2 separate regions of the Homo sapiens genome follow, and region 2 is reported to be linked to region 1. Evidence: microRNA targets listed by miRTarBase, many of them from high-throughput screens and not tested one by one. Region 1 holds a microRNA gene; the other region holds the end of a gene's coding sequence.

Region 1 (5,073 bases):
ATATGAAGCAGGAAGTGGGTGGTGAAACAGAAGAAACAAGACAAGCTGAGCCATGTGTTAACAATTATGACATCTAGGTGATGGGTATATGCAGGTTCCATGTATTATTTCTATCTACTAAAAGGGTATGTTTACACTTTTCCATGATGAAAAGGTTTTATAAAAGAGCCCATTTACACTTTAAACATTTTTATCATATATTATTCTTGAGCATATATAAAAAAGAAAAATATAGACAAGATAAACTGGTTATAGTTTTTAAGATTTCACATTCAGATTCCAGATCTTCTGAATCACTTTTTGACTTGGAGCCACCAATGTCCATATTTTTCACTCCAAGCCATTCTTTGTGCCAAAAAGAGTGTTGGTGATGCAGTATTTAAGAATGTTTCATGGTGTCCCTGAGATTTCCTCCCAAGCTGCCAGCACCCTTTTCTGCACATGCTGATGCCGGTGTCTTCTGGATTTTACCCAAAGGTACTGTGCATATGGCAAGCAGTCAACTACAGCACAGCTGCAGCCTGGCTGCCCCTCGTCCTTAGCAACTCTAAGACATACTGCTAAGATTTCAGAAATGTTAAAACTGGGGGAGGGGGAGCTGAAACAAGAACTATTACAGAAATACTAAGTTTTGAAAACCTGTATGCTGGGCATTATTCTGTGAAATTTGAGAGGAAGAACAAAGAACTACCATAGGAGATAAACTATACTCCGTAAAATTAGGAAAACTTAAGTATAGTTATAATTACTGACCTTTAAAGGTTTTCAGCTTTATCTGCAATTTCTAAATACTAAAAATATTCCTAATTATTAAAACTACTGTTGATGATGGGGGCACACGTCAATTTCCCCACCAAAACTGAACTCCTGAAGGCCAGAGAACTTTGCTAATTATTCTCTTTTATTTTCAGTTCCCAGAACAGTGCACCAGGTTCATGGAGAGCTCAATGAATGTCTGCTGCATGAATGACTCTTCCCGGGAGTATTGGCTTTAAATAAAATCTATGAGACAACCTGCTAACCAAGCACAAGGATAGCCTCCTGAGACAACAAGGCAGGTACTTTCTGAACCAAGTAACTACTACTTCCAGTTGAGGCTCTTAAGCTTTGAGAAAGCCCCATACTAAAATGGCATTTCTTGCTATGCTATGCCATTTTTCATTCATTCAAAGACACTTATTGTCTATCAAGTGCCAGGCCCTGTGATCATAAAAGACTACAAGAGTCTTTACCCTTAAGAAGCTCATTTAATTTAGTTGCAAAGACAAGAATGCACGTGATTGCAAAACTCTGGGAAGAGCATTATGATACAAGTATGCATAGGGTACCACAGGGCATATAAAGAGAAGACACTTAACCCAGAGTCTAAAAGCTTCCCAGAAGAGCTGACTCCTGAGGTGAATCTTAAAATATCCCCTTCCTATACACTAGTGCTCTGCTGGCCAATACAGTGGCCATTGTGTGTAATGATGTAAATATAAATTAATTAAAATGAAATTAAGTCAGTTCCTCAGTCACACTAGCCACATTTCCAGCACTCAACAGCTACATGTAGCTAGTGCCCTTGGACAATACAGATACGGCACATTTCCATTTGTGCAGAAAGTTCTAATGGACAATGCTGTTCTGGTGACTTCATTCAAACAAAGTATAAGTTCCCTTCTCAAAGATCCCATACAAAAAGAAGACGTAGGATAGACATTTATACTACAGAATTGCATTCAATGTCTCCAATAAGCTATTTCAGGACTCAGATCACCCTACAATATTTTAAATAAGGATGCAACTCAAACAAGGCGAAGAGGGAATTTCAATTTCTGATTCTACCTTCAGGGAAGATAAAAACATCTTATGTGAAGTGATTTATGAGTCAATGTGAAATAGGTAAAGAAAATCTCAAGAGAAAGAAATACAGAGGGTTAAATATTGACTTTTACAGACAGAATTCTTTACACCACTTTCCTCACTGTAATGTTACTCTTTTTCCCCTTGTACAATACTTAATACCTATTTTAGTAGATAGGTACTTTGAAACTATGTAAATATCTCATTCCTCATCATATATACAGATATACATTCATTCACCAAAAAGTATTGTTTCTCTGAAAAGACTTGGCTTCTATTATACTTAATATAGTTCCTGATTTTATAAATCACTGTGTATGTGACCATTCTCCCATCTCTGCCACCACCCCTTCCCCATGTGGATGCCCTTCTCTCCCTACTCCACGTGGGGCTAACCCCCCAAGAGGACAGCCCCTTTAGAGGAAATTTATAGACTAGAGGATTCTGAGATCTTCAGATCTTTCAAGGTGGAATGCTGCTTTGAAGATAGGATCTTTTTACTTAAAAATGTATTTAAGAAAAATATCATTAACCAAAAGCATCACAACCAAATAAACTATATTTACCTCTAAAAACTAGACTTATTCTGAAACTACAGAACAGTACAAGAAATTATATATAATCACTACATTGCAACACTTTTCAAACATTCTTATAGCAACATTTATGACGTAACAACATACCAGTTCAGATTTGAAGTAGCCTATTGTGTTTTCATCCAATTGAAAATATCTTCTCTTCCAGTTTTTCATCTACCAGAGATGAACACAGACATAAGACTTGTGTTTCTAAGAATGTCAAATGTTAGTCACCACTTAATTACCCTGATATGAACCCACAATCAGACATGCCAAGCAGTGAAAAATCTCATTACTTCCCTTAGAGATGCGATAAATTAAACCTCATCCCTCTCTAGCTACCCAGGCTTTGAATTCCTAATTCAATTTCTGGTGCCTGGCTTTCATCTTTTATTGTATGATTTTATGTGTTTTTTTTTTTTTTTTTTGAGACAGAGTCTTGCTCTGTCACCCAGGCTGGAGTGCAATGGCGCGATCTCGGCTCACTGCCTCTGCCTTCTGGGTTCAAGCAATTCTCCTGCATCAGCCTCTCGAGTAGCTGGGATTACAGGCTCCCATCACTATGCCCAGCTAATTTTTGTATTTTTAGTAGAGACAGGGTTTCACCATGTTAGTCAGGCTGGTCTCAAACTCCTGACCTCAGGTGATCCGCCCACCTTGGCCTCCCAAAATGCTGGGATTACAGGCGTGAGCCACCATGCCTGGCCTATTTCATATTTTTAATGTTGAAACTTTTTTTTTTTTTAAAAGCACTTCCCCTTCCTCCTACTCCTCGCCCCCGCCAACCCCATGTAAAGAGCAAACACAGGAAATGTTATTAAACCACATCAAGTTTCTCCATCTGTAAAAACATATGAATTCTTCCACAAGTACTTTATACATAGTAGTAAAGCACTAAATATTTAATAAAGTAAACCTATTTTGTACAAATATTTTTTGTCAATAAAATAACAGTTTTTGCAGAAGCACTTAAATATCTCTGACTGGTATTTTGGACTTAAGAGTAAAACAAAAAGGAACCATCAGGCTATGATCCTCAGTTGTGTGTAAAATTAGGGCTTTCAATCTACACACAACTGAGCATCACAGCCTGATGAGAATTCTGACTCTACCTGCAGACATTGTACAGTAAGAAACCCCTGCCCTCACCATCATTTTCCTCAGCCTAAAGCAGGTCAAACAGGTGAAAGGACATTCCCCTGGCTGCCCTAAAAAAATTAAGAGTTGCCAAAAAGTGATGAGAAGTCAAACAGAACCACCAAAATAATTTTAAGTATTTCTTTACTCACAGACTTAAAAAACATTTTCAAACTTTAAAGTTAATTTTCTCATGAAATTCTAAAGATTTAGTTCACATAGAAAGAATGGCTTAGATACTAAGGTATGTTGCAACCTTAGAAATATTGGTAAATTTACTTGCTCTTGCAAAAAATTCATCATGGAACTGATTATATGGGAATACCTGGGCTAACCCATAACAGCTTTTACTAAGTACCAGGTGCTGTGCAAAGGGAAACACACCTTTCTTATTTACATCTCTTAAAAAACAAAAACAAAACAAAACAAAACCCTAGATGGTAGGTTTTATATGATATTCCTTAAGACAGAAACTGAGGGCCTGAGAGGTTAAGTAAGTAGCCCAAGGTCAGAGAGCTTACCACGGAGGTCAGGCCAATGCCTAAACAAGGAAGAGACCTCCTAGGCACCACTCCTTCTCCTGCCGCTGGCCTGCCATCTCCCCACAACAGCTCTCTTTCCCTGACCCACTCCTGAGTATGAGTAAAGATGAATAGAAACACTTTCTAAAACATTAAACTGTTAGGAAAGCTCATTTAAACTGAAAGTCAGTGGTAATGGGCATTAACTTTCCTGGCCCCCTGCAAACCAAGCAAATAACAGCATTGAATTATAAACAGAGAATATCCCCTATTTTATCTCCTGACTCTCCTCAGCATGCCGGTCTCTCACTTTGGGTCTTTCATAAAATAAAGCAAACAATTTCCATGTTAATTTGAGTTTGCTAGAACGTAATCCTTTTTCATTATTTCATGTATTTTGTTAAGCTACTCACCACTGCTCCTTGTTTTACACAATATCCAGCTTTGATAACCGCACTATCTTGAGGTGGTTTAGGAGTAAAGTAAGGAAGATGGCTTTGTGACCGTTTCAGATTATTTCTGTCAATACTTTCACCACATTCATTTACTTCTTCTTTCTAAAATGAAGCAAAATAAATAAATTATTTTCTTGCTTGTTTAGCATACTTTTATTTCATATTATCCCAGTAGAAAATCTTAAAATCCACCTTAGATTAGTCAGAAACAGATTTTTGAAGAGTTTTCTAATTAATCTGAGATACTTACTCTTAATTTTCCTGTCACTGATTAAAGCACAAATTTCCATTCCTCTTGTTTTGCACAAGTCCTGCCACCAGTGCTCTTTTTTGGGGAAGGAGTTAACTTTTTATTTTGAAATAATTATAAGGATTCACCAGAAGCTGCCCAAAAAAAGTACAACAGGTCCTATGTACCCTTTCACTAGTTTCCCCTCAAAGGGAAACGGCGTAACATTATCAAAAAACAAGAAATGGACATTGGCACAACCCACAAACTTTATTCGGATTCCACCAGTTTTACATACATTCATCTAT
Region 2 (5,073 bases), not on the chromosome of region 1:
ATCATGTCCTTTGTAACAATATGGATGCAGCTGGAGGCCATTTTCCTATGCAAATTAACACAGAAGCAGGAAACCAAATACTGCATGTTCTCGCTTACAAGTGATAGCCAAACACTGGGTACTCATGGACATAAAGACAGCAACAATAGACACTGGGGACCACTAGAGGGTGGAGGAAGAAAGGAGAGCAAACATTGACAAATAACTTTCGGCTACTATGCTCAGTCCCTGGGTGATGGGATTATTTGTGCCCCAAATCTCAGCATTATACAATATACCACGATAGCAAACCTGCACAGGTACCTCTGAATCTAAAATAAAAATTGAAATAAATAACAACGAAGAAAAAATAAAATCCTTATCTCTCACTGTAAAAAAGTAAAAATAAAAAGACCAAGGTGAAGTCAGCTCGAGGAGAGTTGGAAGAAGTTTCATTCAGTTTGAGAGATGAAGCCACACTAAACCAGCAGAGTGGGTCCCAATCTTTTCTGTACAATTTCCTGGGGGAGGCTTAAAGAAATACATGTGAGATCACAATCCTGGGGGTGGTGCACATGTCTGAGTATTTTACTTTTAGCTCTTCAGGTGAGTCTGACACACAGCCAAGGTTGAGGACCCATGTAAGCAGGCGGGCCAGAGTGCTTTTTGTCCGAGGCATGTCCTATTCTCTGGTCCAGCCACACCTGCAGCACTGAAACCCAATGTCTCCAAGCAGCTGACCTTTAAAGGGTCCAATTCTTCTTTTAAGAGGAGGCTGTTTGAAGAGATGTGAATAGAACATGAATAAGGACAGCGAAGGTACAAATATGCTAATAAAGCAGATATTCCAACCAGTTTATTGTATTTTTACACACACACACACATATACACAAAAATAAATAAATAAATAAAAGCTCTATACCCAGTGATAGCACTAGTGATGATGCACTTTTGTATTTTTAGGATCATATTATTGAGAAAGATCAAATAATATTTCATTAACATTTATCTACTAATATTAAAATGTTAATGTATATTTAACATTTTTACAACAACTTTACTGAGGTATAAATCACAAAACATACAATTAACCCACTTAGAGTATACAATAGTTTTCATTAGTTTCACAGAGTTGTGCAACTGTCACTGCAATCAATTTTAGAACATTTTCATCCCTCCAAAAAAGAATCCTGTACCTATTAGCAGTCATTCTCCATCACCGACCTTCCCCCAACCCTCAGCAACTATTGATCTATTTTCTGTCTCTATGGATTTGCCTATTTGGGACATTTCATATAAATGGAATTATGCAATATATGGTCTTTTGTTATTCCATTATTTCACTTAGGATAATGTTTCCAAGGTTTACCCATGTTGCAGCATATATCAGCATTTCATTCCTTTCTACTGCCAAATAATATCCATTGTTGGAATATACTACATTTTATTTACCCAATCATCAGCTGATGAACATTTGAGTTGTTTCGACTTCTTGACTATTTGAATAATGGTGCCACAAACCTTCCTGTACATGTTTTTACGTGGACATGGGTTTCCATTTTTCTTGGGCATATACCGAAGAGACTTGCTGTGTCATATAGTAACTCTATGTTTAACCTTTTGAGGAACTGACAGTTTTCCAAAGTGGCTGTATCACTTTATATCCCCACCAGCAACATATGAGGGTTCCAGGTTTTTCACACTCATGTCAATACTCATGATCTGTCTTTTTTATTATGGCAATATTTGTTTTTAAAAATGGTATGTCTTGATATTTTGTAATACATTTAGATATCTTAAATTTTTTAATATATATTGTTTTACTGATGGTTTTGCTTTATGAATTCTGAACTTTCCAATGAAAGAAAACAACTACTGAAGTCAATACATATTTGAGTATCAAAGACCCTAAACTGTCATTTTTGCTGTGGTTATTGCAACAAATAATTGGATTTTTTTTTCTTTTTCTTTGAGACAGGGTCTTACTCTGTTGCCCACGCTGGAGTGCAGTGGCTCATTGCAGCCTCAACCTCCTGGCCTGGCTCAAGTGATCCTCCCACCTCAGCCTTCTGAGTACTAGGCTACAGGCACGTGTCACCACAACTGGTTAATTTTTGTATTTTTTGTAGAGATGGAGTTTTGCCATGTTGCTCAGGCTGGTCTGGAACTCCTGGGCTCAAGCAATTCACCCGCCTCACCCTCCCAAAGTGACAGGGGGTGTGAGCCACCATGTCCAGCCAGTAATTGCATTTTCTTTATGACAAAATTATTTTCAGAGCTTAGAACTGGATAAAACTTTTTCTCTACTTGTATATTCCTTCTACAAAGGAAAGCAGTCATTGCTTCTTTGCACTGACTGGTAGAAAGCTTAAAACTAAAACTTTTCTTGGTTGGAAATTCTTGCTAAATTTTAATTTTTATTTTCATCTTTTATCTTGTAGGTATTTTTTGATACCTCTATATTAGTAAAAGCTAATTCACATCCCTTCTAGTGGGAAAGAGACTATAAAGAAGTAAAGAAATAAATATGTGGTAAGTACCCTTGATCTGCACAGCAATCTCAAGGCAGTAATTATAAAGGATAAAACTGAGGATATGAGAAGTTATTTACCAAAGTCAGAAGCTTATAAGTGGCAAAACTGGTATTAGAATACAGATCTTGGAGTCCCTCATTTCAGTTCTTTATACTCTCTCAACATTCCATCATTCTGTTTAATACAGACATTTTATGGTATCTGAAAAGTATCCCAAAGTAGCTCCTGCAGAACCAACACTTAAATGTAATAGAGTCCCTGTGATAAGATGTTCAACTGATATTTTATCCCAGTGATTGAGATAACTTTAAATGTTCCTCAATAGTCCCCACAATAGCTTAGCTCTGTAAGGAAAAAATGTGTTTATTTTTCATTGATAATTATAATTATTATAATAATGTTTTTTTTTTTTTTTGAGACAGAGTCTTGCTCTGTCTCCCAAGCTGGAGTGCAGTGGCATGATCTCAGTTCACTGCAACCTCTGCCTCCCGGGTTCAAGTGATTCTCATGCCCCAGCCTCCTGAGTAGCTGGGACTATAGGCATGCACAACCACTCCAGGCTAACTGTATTTTTTGTATTTTTAGTAGAGACAAGTTTTGCCATGTTGGCCAGGCTGGTCTCAAACTCCTGGACTCAAGTGATCTGCCTGCCTTGGCCTCCCAAAGTACTAGGATTACAGGTGTGAGCCACCACACCTGGCCTATAATTATTATTTAAATTATTAATTTTCTACTAATGCTGAGAAAGATGGTATAAGACATAAAAATCTAATGTTTGTCTAATGATATGGGTCAAGGCACCTAATATTAATAGTTAGCTAAAGAATAGGGGAAAATATTTACAAATAATTCCAATGTAGAATGATTTATAGAAAGTTACTTTATATTTTTCCACATTACATTTTAAAGTTACTTAAAATATTTTTGGCTACATGAAATTTATATATTCTTCCTTAAGGAAAGAAAATAAACTTTTATAGAAGAAGTTACAGAAATGCACTTGGTATTCATTACTGGTGATACATAATAGAATTTAGGTTTAGTGCCAGATATAGGGTGAGAACACCATTAGCTGGAAACTATACTTACCTCTAGGTGATTTCTATAAATCTGAAGTCCAATGATTTCACTTATTAAAGTGGACAAATAAGTTATATGTTCCGGACCTAGGTGACAGTTACAAAAACTATCTAAAAGACAAAAACAGTCTAACCATGAATGAGAGGATTCAATACATTTTATAAATGCCTCAAAAGAACTCTTTTCTTATCCTCATTCTATCTCCACATCTGGACTTGAGTATTGTGAACAATTGCAGTTTGGTCTAAAGAATTAGTCCATCACTATGAATTACCACACATCACAAAATGACTTAAATCACCAGTGTTAAGTAAGTGGTAGGACCTTATGATTGAATAAATATTGGTTTTCTAGAATTGTAAAAACCTCAGAAAGTGTATAGTTTTGCTTCAATCATTTTACAGGTGTGGGAAATAAACATGAGGTGAAGGGACTTGCCCAAGATCTCCTAAGTTCATGGCAGAGTGGAGACTACAAACAAGTTTATTTAAGATTGAAGGTTGTTCTACGATACCATAATATTTCAAGTCAAAACTTAAAATGGACTTGATTTTCGGCTTTGTTTAAACCTGCAATTTAAAAAACTGAGCAAGATCCAGCCCAAAATGGCAAAAAGGTTTTATGAATACACACTTTTTGCTAACAGTCAACTAGAAACCAAATAGAATAGCAACGTTACTATCAGAGCAGATCATGGGTATATTATTGAAAGCAAGTGTAATGATGCCAGCCTTCAGATTCCCTAGGATATTTTAAAACTCTCAAGCACTTCTATTACATAGTTTAGGGTCACTGGAGAAAATTACTTTTATGCAGACAAAGGAACACACGTCTGGAAAAGGAACTAAAGAAAAATGTGGCAGTTCTTATCTATTTTATTCCCTGAAGAAATGTGCTGACCATTAACTTTATAACTTGAATATTATAAATGGAAAAAAAAAGGAAGAAATAGAAATCCATCCAGTTCTGGAATCATGGATGGAGTTCTGGAAGATGGTTTGGTCTTGTAATCTTTTTTACTGGTCCTCTCTTGGCACTCACTGTCTTCTGCTTAGCTGGATTATATCTTCCACTGAAATAAATAAGTGTTAATCATAATTTTTCAGTCACCATTATGTACAACAAAAACATTATAGGCCACACAGGAAGAAATGTATATTGCACCTTGTTCCCCCCAACAGACCTTCACACGGAAACCTTCCTGTGAATAGTTTCTGCTTACAGTGCAAATCTTAGGCAGCCTTCTGTTATAGCACATCATCTCCACCGCTACAGAGGCATACAGCTTAAGGGCAGGTAATTCAAAGGCTGGAAGCAGCATGTCAGGTGCCCTAATGTGGAAAGTTCTGTCTAATGAGGATAAGACAGATCCGTGAATTCCTTTTCTTAGATTTCCATGAGATCCTTTTTCCATTAATGACTTATGTGGCACTAAAAAGCCAACCTTCCTTACACTCTGACTTGAGAGAGTTAAAGGCCA

Evidence for each region. The annotated mature microRNA hsa-miR-3941 reads UUACACACAACUGAGGAUCAUA and lies in region 1 at 3,452-3,473, opposite strand. An mRNA with a match to its seed (bases 2 to 7 or 8) in the 3' UTR can be bound and repressed. Matches are read on the target gene's strand: a 7mer-m8 pairs with bases 2 to 8, a 7mer-A1 pairs with bases 2 to 7 and ends in A, and an 8mer does both.
Region 2: the mRNA of CCDC169 is a reported target of hsa-miR-3941. Seed matches in the 3' UTR shown: 7mer-m8 at 4,220-4,226.

What each region holds. Positions count from the first base shown.
Region 1 is chr10:122,415,424-122,420,496 of GRCh38, reverse strand. It overlaps MIR3941 (microRNA 3941), which reads right to left and starts at 3,532; the gene lies at 3,430-3,532. It overlaps PLEKHA1 (pleckstrin homology domain containing A1), which reads right to left. Exons shown (of 12, transcript NM_001001974.4): 7 at 4,495-4,638; 8 at 2,529-2,597.
Region 2 is chr13:36,226,628-36,231,700 of GRCh38, forward strand. CCDC169 (coiled-coil domain containing 169) reads right to left here. Exons shown (of 8, transcript NM_001144981.3): 8 at 4,148-4,665. The coding sequence ends at 4,566. CCDC169-SOHLH2 (CCDC169-SOHLH2 readthrough) reads right to left here. Exons shown (of 16, transcript NM_001198910.2): 6 at 721-754. Among named protein-coding and RNA genes, the nearest start is that of SOHLH2, 15 kb to the left of the region's middle.